Linked DNA regions of Homo sapiens: regions 1 and 2 are each linked to region 3. Evidence: fine-mapped expression QTL. A gene starts in region 3. Each other region holds a variant in brackets. All regions are shown on one strand. Distances are from middle to middle. Region 1 overlaps TGM3 (transglutaminase 3). Region 2 has its middle 32 kb from the start of LINC03086. Region 3 holds the start of TGM3 (transglutaminase 3).

Evidence for each region.
Region 1: its variant is fine-mapped to the expression of TGM3 in whole blood (TOPMed, PIP above 0.99).
Region 2: its variant is fine-mapped to the expression of TGM3 in esophagus mucosa (GTEx, PIP 0.94).

Annotation. Positions count from the first base shown.
Region 1 is chr20:2,339,027-2,343,216 of GRCh38, forward strand. It overlaps TGM3 (transglutaminase 3), which reads left to right. Exons shown (of 13, transcript NM_003245.4): 12 at 828-961; 13 at 1,408-2,053. The coding sequence ends at 1,555. Among named protein-coding and RNA genes, the nearest start is that of TGM6, 40 kb to the right of the region's middle. RefSeq lists an enhancer at 659-1,159. The variant A/G (reference allele first, on the strand shown) is at 1,691.
Region 2 is chr20:2,237,231-2,241,427 of GRCh38, forward strand. No RefSeq gene overlaps it. Among named protein-coding and RNA genes, the nearest start is that of LINC03086, 32 kb to the left of the region's middle. The variant A/T (reference allele first, on the strand shown) is at 2,434.
Region 3 is chr20:2,293,824-2,297,995 of GRCh38, forward strand. TGM3 (transglutaminase 3) reads left to right here and starts at 2,178. Exons shown (of 13, transcript NM_003245.4): 1 at 2,178-2,247. The coding sequence starts at 2,241. It overlaps LOC105372503 (a long non-coding RNA gene), which reads right to left. Exons shown (of 3, transcript XR_937203.3): 2 at 3,369-3,467; 3 at 1,998-2,671. RefSeq lists enhancers at 2,882-3,415, 3,416-3,948.

The DNA.
Region 1 (4,190 bases), 45 kb after region 3:
TCACTGAGCAAGGACCGTGTGGTATTAGAGCTCCGCTCAGACTATAAATGGTGCACAGGGAACCTCTGGGCTCTAGAAGTTTAGAAGGACATTGGTAGACTGGGGTGTCAGCAGAGGAGAGTAGCCTGGGTTGAGCTGGGGGGACCCAACCCCTGGAAAAAGAGTTAAGGGAGCTACAGTGTGAGCCAGGGTGTGAGCAGCTGTGGGGCCTGGGGCTGCCCTTTTCAACACCTGTGGGGCCTCCCAGAGACGGAGGTTCAAGCTTTAAGGGAAGAAACAGGACCCATAAGCAGGAAAGCCAAGGAAAGTAATATTAAACCCAGCAAGTGGCTGGGCACAGTGACTTACATCTGTAATCCCAGTGCTTTGGGAGGCCAAGGCAGGAAGATCACTTGAGGCCAGGAGTTCGAGGCCAGCCTGGGCAACACAGCAAGACCCTGTCCTTGCAAAAAATAAATTCAGCATGAAAAATGTCCTGACCCTCACAGAGCCCACAGTGGGGTTGGGCTGTCCTGGGAAGCAGGGTCTGAACTGGAGTCGGGGCAGGGAAGTAACAGTGTTGTTGGCTGCTGCAGGGGGCCCCTTCCCCCTCAAAGCTGAGGTTCTCATCCACAGCACAGGATAATGTCCTGGGACCATCCTGTGTATTGGGGGGCAGGGGGCGTCAGACACAATGTGCCTGGCACCTAGGAGGGCTAAATGGTCTCCCCTTCTTCATCCTCAGTGACATCACCCCCTTCACTCAGTCACCCTGCCCAGCCCTCACCAAGGTGCAGGCAGGGGCTGAGCAGCTGGAGTCCTGACTCGGCAGCCCCTCTCCCCCATAGGTGCTGAACGAGGCTCGTGTGCGGAAGCCTGTGAACGTGCAGATGCTCTTCTCCAATCCACTGGATGAGCCGGTGAGGGACTGCGTGCTGATGGTGGAGGGAAGCGGCCTGCTGTTGGGTAACCTGAAGATCGAGTGAGTCCTGGGCCTAAGTGGCCGGTGCAGGAGGGCGGGAGGGGGCGGGGGGGCCCTCCAGATCCCCTGGGTGGGACAGACAGAGCTCCCTCTGACCTTGGGTTCTTTACTCTTTTGGGGGTCTTGGAACTCTAGAATCTGCTTTTGCATTTGGTTTGGGGGTTCACCAAACTTGAACTCCTGAGAAGAACAGGTCACCAGAGCTAAGAGCTGGCCTTCAGGGCTTAGAATATTTGGGAGATCATGGGACCCCCCCCTCCTGCTTCCCCTGCTGAAGAGTTCCAGGGCTGGAGGGGCCCCGTAACCCAGAGAGACAGCTAGAGGGAGCTAAAGAAGCAGTGGCCTTGCCCAGCCTCCATCAGAACAGGACAGGAGGTCACAGGAGGCCCGTCCAGCCCAAGGTCCGTGTGTCTCGTATCAACACTGATCTGTGCCCTCCCCATCAGCGTGCCGACCCTAGGGCCCAAGGAGGGGTCCCGGGTCCGTTTTGATATCCTGCCCTCCCGGAGTGGCACCAAGCAACTGCTCGCCGACTTCTCCTGCAACAAGTTCCCTGCAATCAAGGCCATGTTGTCCATCGATGTAGCCGAATGAAGGGCGCTGGTGGCCTCCCGTACAAACTTGGACAACACGGAGCAGGGAGAGCTCACCATGGAATGAACCCCCCGCCCATGCTGTCCGGCCTGGGAAACCCTCTCCATCTCCCAAGGCTGCCAGACATGGACCTCC[A/G]GGCTCCAGCACATCCCCCTCTCCTCTCCCCCAGGTTGGGGCTGGGTCCACCCTGTCCTATGACTTGATCACTTTTGCACATTCCCTGGCCGCTTCTCCCCAGAGCTGCCTGCTCTGTGAGCCCCACAGCCCTGCTCATTCCTCACGCCCTTCAATGCTGCAGGATGGACTGGCCCCTGACCCAGGGACTCTCCAAACGGGATACAGGAGAGAAGCTGGTCTAGACTGTTTGCTGATCCCCAACCTGCACGGGGCATTCCTGCTTCTCTCTCAGGCCACCACAGAGGGCAGGGGATGGTTAGTCACCTGCCCCAGCACTCACACCCTAACTCAAAATAAATGTTAAATAAGTGCGATCACACAGCACCGACTCTACCTGACTGCTGTTGCACCTAAGGTGGTGAAGGAGAGAGGAGGCTGTGGCCGTGACCTTCTGGAGCAGGGAATAAATTTGAGGAGGCCATGTTCTCTGTGTTTCAATGTCCAAAGGGAGTGGGCTTGATCTGCAAGGCTGTAGATGCAAAACTAGGGAAACATTTCAAGCCAGTTTAGGAAAACTTTCTAACATGATGTCCAAAAATAGATGAGGCTGCCTTGGGAGGTAGCTCCTGGTCACAGAAGGCTTCAAACATTCTCTGTGTGGTTGGGCAAACTTTTCAGGCCTCTCTACATGCATCAGAGTGAGAGGGGACGTCACAGTTTTTGCTGGAACCCTCTGGCAGAGCTGGTCCCGGGGGTGGCCCAGCCTCTGCTCACATGGGGCTCCACGCTCCTCTTGTGGCCAGGAGCAAATGCGTCCTTCCGCCAGCCACAGCGCTGTTAACTCAACCTGAACCTTCTCTGCCTTTATACACACTCTGATGGTTCCTCAGCCTTTGTCCCTTAAAATAACCTCAAACAAATCCCATTAGCTTTCCTGTCGCTTGTGCTGACTAATCCCATTTTGACAACTCTGCCTCATTTTCTGAACTCAGGAGACAAGTAGAATCTAAATAGAAACCTCAACCTCACATCCAGCTCAAAGCTTCTCCCCTGGGTGCAGCGCAGGCCTTACTTACGCCTGCAGAGCAGGCACTGTCCATCTCTCACCTTCCTTCCCTTCCTTCCCCGAACTGGGGAGTTGCTAGATCCCTCAGAGTTGGAGCAGAGAGAGAAGAAGAAAAGTGACAGTTGTCTGTATCACTGGTGCTGATGTAATGCAGCCAATGATGGTCTCTGTGTCGCCAGTGTTTAAATGCAGGCTTTCTGTACTGCTTGTTGCCTGAGCCCAGGAGTTCAAGGCTGCAGTGAGCTATGATTGTGTCACTGTACTTCAGCTTGAATGACACAATAAGACCCCATCTCTTAAAAAAAAAAAAAAGCGGTCAGTAAATTAGGGATTTGGGGTTGAATCACTTACCATCCAGCTGCCTTGAACCCATCCTCATCCCATATTATCCCAGGCAATATGGATTGGGTACATCTGGGTGGATGCCCTCAAACGTTTTGACTTCCAAACTCCTCTGGACCCTCAGAGCCCATAGACAGGCCTGGCCTCCTTCCTATTAAGATCCAGTAACTTCTCTCCCCACCTCCTATCCCATATGGGAAGACACTGAAGAATTCTCTCTCCTGCAGCAGGGGCCCTACTCAGGATTTATTTCTGCCTCTTCTCTTGGCCTCCAGGCTGATGTCATGTTAAGTTGCAGTGTAACTCAGTTGGGGATGTGCCATATCTGATAAAGAAATAAAGAGACTATAGTCCAAAGGATCCGAAAAACTAGGATCATGTGACAGCAGGATCACGGGAGAACTCTGGGAGTGGATTTGAGGGTGCTTAATCAAGGAAGCCATAACAGGAGCCTAAACAATGAAGAATTTATTGACTTGGGGCCATTCTTTTGTGATACGAGATTTAATACCCAGGTGAGGATCCTGAGAGCTGGTGCAAACTGGCTTAGTGGCTCCAAACATCTGGAAGAAGTGATGACTTACGCTAAGTACAGTTGAAATGGCTGAATTCCTATGCTGCATGATAGAGGAAAGAATTAAAAGGCTCAGGGAAATGGGCGTGCTGGGGTTGACATATTATGAGGGGCCAGGAGACATCTTCCAAAGGATTGTGTTCCCTCAGAGGGCCCAGGGGACCCACCCACCATTCACCAAGGCCATCAGAAATGAGTAGTGACAGAGGCATCAACATCACTAAGAAATTCAGTGGTGGCATCCTCTACATTTAAAGCAAAAATAATAGCAACATTGTAGAAGTAAAATGTATGAAAATAATAACACAATGGCCAGGAAGGAAAAAAAAACACTGATGTAAATTTCTTATATAATACATGAAGTAATAAAATATTAATTGAAGATAGACTGTGACAAGTTAAAGATCTGTATTATAAACCTAAAGAAACCAGTAAAAGAAAAGAAGGCCGGCGTGGTGGCTCACACCTGCAATCTCAGTACTTTGGGAGGCCAAGATGGGTAGATCACTTGAGGCCAAGAGTTCAAGACCAGCCTG
Region 2 (4,197 bases), 57 kb before region 3:
AAAGTGACACAGCGAGAGCAGGGCCTTCAGAATGCCAAAGAGTTTGCGGTACTGCGGTCCCTGGTGTTCTGTGCAGATACTAAGCTAACAGGAATGTAATACAAGCACAGCAGATTGGAATGAAATAGGCCACCCACTCTCACTCCAGGCTCCTCAGTAGCTGCCCTGCCTGCTCATCCGGGGGCCCAAGGCTCACTCGGTGCCAAGGAACTAGCGTCAACTCCCCAAGAACAGCACTGCTCACTTCCCCCAGCAATTCTTCCCTGCTTTCAGAATGAAATCCACATCCATCCTCTGAGCCTCCCTGGTCTTCTGTCCCTATCACAACGTCTCTTCTGACCTCCCTATCTGCTCCGCCTGCTTTGTCAAGAACATGCCCCCAGCTTTCCCTGTCTTGAGCGTTTCCTGACACTGTCTTCTGCCTCTGTTTGTTGAAATCCCAAGACTTTTTCAAGGCCCATGAGCCATTCACAATTGTGTTCAGCTGCATATAAGAGAAGTGCTGCTATTTGGCTGAACCAAAGAGGGATTCTTTTATTTCATGCAACAAGAAGTGTGGGGACAGGCAGTCTAGGGCTGGGGTGGCAGCTCAGGAATGATTCCATCCAGGAACCAGGTTCTTTCCATGTGCTCACTCCTCTTTCTTTCTTTCTTTCTTTCTTTCTTTCTTTCTTTCTTTCTTTCTTTCTTTCTTTCTTTCTTTCTTTCCTTCCTTCCTTCCTTCCTTCCTTCTTTCCCCCCTCTCTCCCTCCCTCCCTCCCTTCCTCTTGAGACAGTGGTCTCATTCTGTCACCCAGGCTGGTGTGTAGTGGCACAATCACGACTCATTGTAGCCTCGTCCTTCTGGGCTCCAGCAATCCTCCCACCTCAGCCTCCTCAGTAGCTAGAACTACGGGCTCACTGCACCCTCTGCCTCCCAGGTTCAAGCGATTCTCCTGCCTCAGCCTCCCGAGTAGCTGGGACTACAAGAACCCACCACCATGCCCGGCTAATTTTTGTATTTTTAGTAGAGATGGGATTTCACCATGTTGGTCAGGCTGGTCTCAAACTTCTGACCTCAGGTGATCCACCTGCCTTAGCCTCCCAAAGTGCTGAGATTATAGGCCTAAGCCACCACTCCCAGCCTCCACAGGTATGTTTTGATTTAAACTGAATTGAATTAAATGGGAGAATGATGGTATGGCTATCGGAAAGGGTGTTGGATGTAGAATTACAAAACATGAATTTGAATCCTGATATGACCACGTGACTTTGTGTGAATCACACGGACCTCAGTTTCTTCATCTATAAAATTAGGAGACTCAATGAAATGGTCTCAAAATTTTCTTCCAGCTTTAAGAACTTGGGGACTCTTATGAATGGAATCAATTAGCTGCATTAGGGAATTCCAAGGAGGTGGAGCCCATTCAGGCCCAATGACAGCCAGTAAAACAGGGAATGGAGAAATCCGGGCACTTCTCACTCAATCCTATAGTTTATGGGCCCAAGACAAGCCTAGAGGGGCAGAAAGGTGAGAGCTGGAAAGTAACAGGGAACTGGGCCAGACCAGCATGGATCAGGAGGCTGGAGATGAGAGGTCAGTCCTGGTGTAAATAAACAAGTGCTATTTTAAGAGGTCGCCTTTCAGGAAGCAGGAACCCTCCACTGCCCAGACATTGAAGCCCTACTGAACCTCACCTCCTAATGACAAGAGAAGGCCTCTCATTATGACTTTGGCACAGTGGCTTATGCCTGTAATCCCAGCATGTTGGGAGCCTGAGTAGGGAGGATCGCTTGTGTTCAGGAGTTTGAGACCAGCTTGGGCAACGTAGAGAGACCCTGTCTCTACAAAAAATAAAAAATTAGCCGGGCGTGGTGGGACATGCCTGTAGTCCCAGCTACTCAGGAGGCTGAGGCAGGAGGATCATTTGAGCCCAGGAGGTTGAGGCTGCAGCGAACTGTGATTCTGCCACTGCACTCAACCTGGGAAACAGAGTGAGACCCTGTCTCCAGAAAAAAGAAGAGTTCCTTTAAGTTTAGGCGAGGTAGAGCCCCACATCTGGCATCATGTATAAACTGGAATGAATAGCCAGTGTGTCTGTCTCACATTCCTATTTGGGGATAGAGCAAGACTTACGGGTTGAAGGCCCAAGCCTTCCCTTGTGTTACTTTGAGCAAGTTAATTTTCCTCTCTGGACTTCAGGTTCTCGTCTGTAAAAGACAGGCATTGGTATATAACACTGGTGTTTAAATTCTTTAGAACTGGAACAAAAACAGAACAAAAGCTTGTATAGGTTCCCGAAACAGCAAGCCATCCTCTTGGCAAGGAATCCTTCAGGATCTGTGGTGTCTCGGAAGCACCTCTGAAGACTTGGGGCCACAGTATAAAAATGACTACACTGGTGACCTTGAGCTCCCTCCCAGCTCTCTGACCCTGTGTCTTTCCTGGTTATT[A/T]TTTTTTTCCCCCACATTTCTTATCTACTGAAGACTGACGCCAAGTATTGGTGTTTCTTTTAGACGTAACTGAGTTAAGAAGCTCTCGCCATGACTCGATCACAAGCTGGCAGGTTTCGCCCCTGTACTTTGCTTGATTCAGATCCTTCCTCATTCTCTTTATTGAAGTTTTAAGTTCTTCATTTTCCCTTCCCCACCCCAATACAGGGCTTGGTTCTCAGCCCCTTTTGTCCTTACCATACACATTCATTCATGAGATGCTATGACAAATTCAGTAATTCCTATCCCTTGTCTCCAAGTTTAGTGAGTCATGAGCAGTGAAGCTGATGCTAAAAAGAAATGTCACACCTGGATGGGACTGTTGAATCTACTCAATGCCTCACCTCAGAAGTGGAAGTTGCTGACTTCAATATTTTGTTTTTGTGGTCTCTTGAGGGAAAGACCTTTTGATGCTGGCTTCACAAGTGACCTGCCAGTCCAGTTTCACTAGCGCTTACCAAGTGATAGGTAACACAGCCAAAATTTGTGATTCTCGCTTGAACCCAGGAGGCAGAGGTTGCAGTGAGCCAAGATCGCACCACTGCACTCCAGCCTGGGCGACAGAGCAAGACTCTATCTCAAAAAAAAAAAAAAACCCACAAAATTTGTGGTTCTTTATCCTCCTGTTTCAACTTATTAATAATAGTAATGATGACAATAACTACAACAACACTCAGCTATCATTTATAAAGTGTCTACAAGGCGCCAAGCACAGAGCCAGGTGCTCCACATATATTATCCTTCATTTTCATAACTTTAGAAGGCATTAATAGATATTATTGACCTTACTTTGCAAATGCATTAAGTCTCATGGAAATTAAGTTCTTTGCCCAAAGTTGCCTGGCTAATGAGAAGCAGAGCCTAGATTCAAACCCGAGTCTGTCTCATTCCAATATTCATGTTCTTTCCACCTCTCCGTGAAGAAATAGTATGCCTTTTTTGGGGTGTTGAAGATTTGTGACAATTTTGATAAGTGAAAGCAAAAAGGGAAAGAGAAGAGAAAAAGCTATTAACTTAAAATCCGTTACAACTGTACTAGGAAATTAAGTGAGAATAAATTATAAAGTCAAATCTAATTTCTGAGGGGAAGACACTGACTGACATAGATAAAAACATGTTTATGTGACCCTTAGGTAAATCGTTCCAACTCTCTGAGCCTCAGTGTTGTTATCTACAAATGGGAGAATCAAGGCACCCTCCTACAAGCGGCGGCTCATCAGCTCACTTGGAAAATGTAGTCATCTTCTCAAAGTTTTCTTTTTCTTTCTTTCTTTTTCCTTTCTTTCTTTCTTTTTCTTTCTTTCTCTCTCTCTCCTTCCTTCCTTCTTTCCTTCCCTCCCTCCCTTCCTTTTTTCTTCTTTCTTTCATTTTCTTTCTTTCTCTCTTTCTTCTTTCTCTTCCTTTCTTTCCTTCCGTCCCTCCCTTCCTTCCTTTTTTCTTCTTCCTTTCATTTTCTTTCTTTCTCTCTTTCTTCTTTCTCTTCCTTTCTTCTTTCTTTTCCTCCTTCCTCCCTTCTTTCCTTCCCTTCCTTCTTCCCTCCCTCCCTCTTTGTTTCTTTCTTTCTCTCCCTCCTTCCCTCCCTCCCTTTCTGTCTCCCTCTTTCTTTCTCTTTTTTCTTTTCCTTCCTTCCGTCTTTTTCCTCCCTTCTTTCCTCCCTCCTCCCTCCCTCCCTCCTCCCTCTTTTTCTTTCTTTCTTTCTTTTTTCTTTCTCTCTTCTTTTTTTTT
Region 3 (4,172 bases):
CAAAGCCTACGAGAGGTGAGGAGACTTGGCAGAGCCAAGACTGTGTGTCTTCAGGTTCCCTTTTAAGGGGAGCACCACCTCCCTGTCACCTCTGCAGCTTTCCTTGTCAGGTCATTGAAAGGAGTGCCCGGGGTCTGATTTTCCTTGGCTCCCAGGCCAACAGCAACAACCACAATAATAAGCAAAACCCCTCCTTTCCTTTAGACCACACACAGAAGCATACAGAGCACTTTCACACCCATTCATCCCATGCCATTCATGGAGCTGTCCTCCAGCTTTCTGGCAGGATGAACTTGGCGTCATGAGGCCTCGCCCAGAGTCACAGCTAGTGCCCGTGGTAGGAGCCAAGACCACACATGAGTCTCCTCTTGGGTCCAGGCTCTTTCCATGTCCCTCTCTACCCTCTGCTCTTTTCTTAGTCATCTGCCAGAGCCAACAGTGCATCCCATTCTGCCTGGCATGGGTGCACAGCCAGCTGTCTTAGAGCCCCAGAGGCCTGGGAAAGGCTGCCTCATTTAGGCGCTGACCTCCAAGGTTAAGCAAACACAGGCTCTGGAGCCATTTACATATGGGTATGAATCTCGTGGTTGGAGACTCAGGTTAATCTCTCTGTCCCCCATAAGATGGAAATAATAATAGCCCCTTTGCATAGGGTTGCTATGAAGATGAGAAAAGCTAATATATGTAAAGTGTTTAGCCAGTGCCTGCCCACAGTAAACACTAAATCAATTAGTTATTATTAGTAAGCACTAAATCGGTAGTTATGATTCCCATCTTTACAGTGATATTGATTCACTTATTCAAGAATGTGCATGTTCCAGCCACGTGTCAAGCCCTGTGCTAGATTCTGAGAAGAAGATTTGAATGATATGCAACCTGTACCTTCAAGGAGCTCAGTCTGGAGATGGGGACATATATAAACAGATAGTTCCAGTGCAGTGGATACATACGGTAATAGAGGTTCTAAGATGTACAAAAGGCTGTAGGGGCCTAAAGGACGGAGAAAGGACACTGATTTCTCTTTTTCAATTTTCCAAGCCACCTGCCTATTCCGTCTTCTCTTTCTCGAGATCAAACATTCTCACTTCTCTCTAAAGACCCAACCTTGTCATCATGGTGCTCAATCTTCCTTCCACACTGTGATGCTGGGGAAAGCCTTGGGGCATTTCTGTTCTCTCGTGAATCCTTGAAGCCTCACTTTAAAAAATATATACTCACTCCTTTGTCCATCGTAAACCTTGATATTTGTAAATATCGATAATAGGAACTTTGAAAAAACATACGCCCTTAGAAACAAGCAAGCAAACAAAAACACGTAGAATGTCAGAGCTTCTCCCCACTCCACACCCTTTCTTTAAACTGATGTCAAGGTGGGCCCAGTGAGGGTCAGTGACGGAACCTGCAGTCTGAGAAAGACATGGCAGAAGCATAAGGTTAGAGGCTGTTCCTGCTGCCTCATTAAAAACAACAATTTTCCCCCAAATCTGGACTGAAACTGACATTCAACGCCAAGTGTGATCTCAGTTTAACCTGCCCTGGTAGATATGCATACACTTCCCATGCGCACCATCTCATGTGATCGTGTCCACAGCTTTGTGAGTTGAGAGGGGTGGGAGTGATTATCCCCAACCACAAGCAAGGCTTCCGGGCTTCAAGGGTTGGAGACCACCCAGGGCTCGGCCAGCATCAGAACCAACGGCTTCTAATTCCAAATCAAATGATGGTTTATGCCACACTACAACCCTAAACAAATGAACTGTGATGTGTCTCACTTCCCTGTGCAAGTGGAAGATGCTAATACATGTGTATCATGAGAAAGGACCTCACAATTTTCTTCTTCTGGGTTCTGCTGAGACGTTTCTTTGATTCAGAGAGAACTTCCCAGGATCAGCAAGAAAAGCATGTCATCATTTCCTAAACCCTACAATCCAGGAAATAGTCCATCATTTTATAAAATTATAAAAGCGAACTATTTGAGTTTCTTTATTATCTGCCCCCTTCTCCCCAAGCTGGTCTTGTACAAACATGATGCACGTCCATTGGGTGACAAGTCTGTCGTAAGTGAAACGTTTACAGGCACTACAGGAATGACCTGGTGCCTCGCCCACTTCATTAGAATTCTAATTGGGGTGTGTAGGAGAGGATTCTATAAATGGTAAGGCAATCCTTGGCAGCCTGTCTGTCAGCACTGTCCGTGCCATTCCCAGAGGAGCCTGAGAAGAGGCAGAGGAAGGCGAAACATGGCTGGTGAGTGCATGGCATCTTCTCCATCAGGTCCTTGCCAGAAGCCTGTGCTTCCCCTGGGCCAGCCTGCCAAGCCAGAGTGTCCGGCCAGGACAGCTGCCTGCCTTGGGGGCTCTGAAGGCCAGACTTCCTATTTTAGGGTGCTAGCCAGAGGCGGCTCTTTCTCAGTGGTGGTTGGGTCCCTCTAGCATATTCTTGGGGTAGAACATCATTGGAATGTAGCTCTGAATAATGGGCAGGGTGTTCAGTGCAGCTGGACATCGCATCTCCTTAGGCAGAGGACAAGCTTTGCCTTGTTTGTGTTTGCGTTTCTTTTACACATCCGTCGCCACCCGTAAAGCCAAAGCAGACAGGACTCGGGTCTCGTGTTTCTCAGTGTAGCTGTATCCAGCTGTCAGCAGTGTCAGCAAAGAAGCACATCTCAGAACTACCAGGGAGTGAGAGTGGTAACATGTAAGTTGATTTGAAAGAAACCATTGTTTATTTCAAATCAACTTACTTAGGAGCATTAGGAATGCTCCTAAGTAAGCTACACATCAGAAGCATCAGACAGGCTCTGTGTAAGTGACTTGATGAGCTGAAGCCTCCCCGTAGCAGGAGCAGGTGTGCCACAAGATGTCCTGGTCCACAGGAGAGCACCAGGGAACAGGGGTTACAAAGAACAACAGGAAGTGCAGGTTCCCCCACTCTATGCTTACTGTCGAGGATATGGGCCTTTGTTAATCAGCACCCCTGCTAAGCAGCATGCTAATTATTATCTGTCTTGTGTGCTCAGCCTAGTAGGTTGACAGGGACGCCAAATCCAAACAAGATATGAGTCAAACTTGTAAAATATTGTGAATGGCGATTAGGGCTGCTGGAAGATTGGCCAAAGACATCACTGAGCCAAATGCAACAGGCAAATGCTGGCTACTTCAGAAGCCACAAAAACTGGGACAGGTGATTGCACATTAGGCCCCCTCCCCTGTCTCCCATTCCTTGCTGTAATGTACAGCATGGCTGGGATGCTAAGAAGAGGAGCTCTGGACCCTACACACTGCAGCAAGAGGGGAGGTCAGATGTCATCTAGCCCATCTCCCTCCCTCCAGGAGGTGGCTGAGGCCCAGGAAGGGGTGGAACCTTACACACAGTGAATCCATCGCAGAGCCAGCTAGGTCTCAGCAGTGCCCTTTCCACCATGTCCTGCTGCCAGAGCTGAGCTCCTACATAAGTGCACATAACATCTGGAACATAAAAAAGCAATTCTGAACCTGGCTTCTCATTTGAGCTTTGTGACCAACTGCTTGTGTGTTCTCTGCCACCCCTGAGCCTCAAGTTTTCAAGATGAAAGCTTTGAAATGAATGCGTTTTGAGGTTCCTTCCAGTACCGACTTTTCTTTCTCCACAAAAAGAAACCAGAGCCAGGGAGTGGACAGGCACGTGCCCAGCCCCCAGGAATGTGCACCTCCCATCCCTGTGCAGGACCTCCCGTGGACTCTCAGGAATGGCCTGCCCGCTGTGAGGCATGATTAAATGTCTCTGTTAACAACCAGAGATGTTCTAAAGTCACAACAGAATGAGGCTGGTGGGGAGAAAATCAATTTTGAAAAGGTGGTGGAGAGACAGGCGAATACATTCAGTCCCTTAAATTTGTCCCACTTGCAGTTCCCAGCTCAGCTCCGAGTCACTCAGCCAGGAAGTTCCCAATCAGTGTTTCTTGGATGAATGAATTTATTCACTGAACACCTAAGGGAGAAGAGCTGTGCCAGGTGCAGTGGGAAATATGGAGGTGAATGAGATGTGGTTCTGTCCTCGGTAGCTTTTAGTCTGATATTTTTTGGTACCACCGGTTTTTTAGGTGAGCAGCATGCAAGGCAGACTGTTATTAAGCTGCATGACAAATACAAAACAAGTGCTACGGGGACCAACAAGAGAAGGAGATTAGTCTT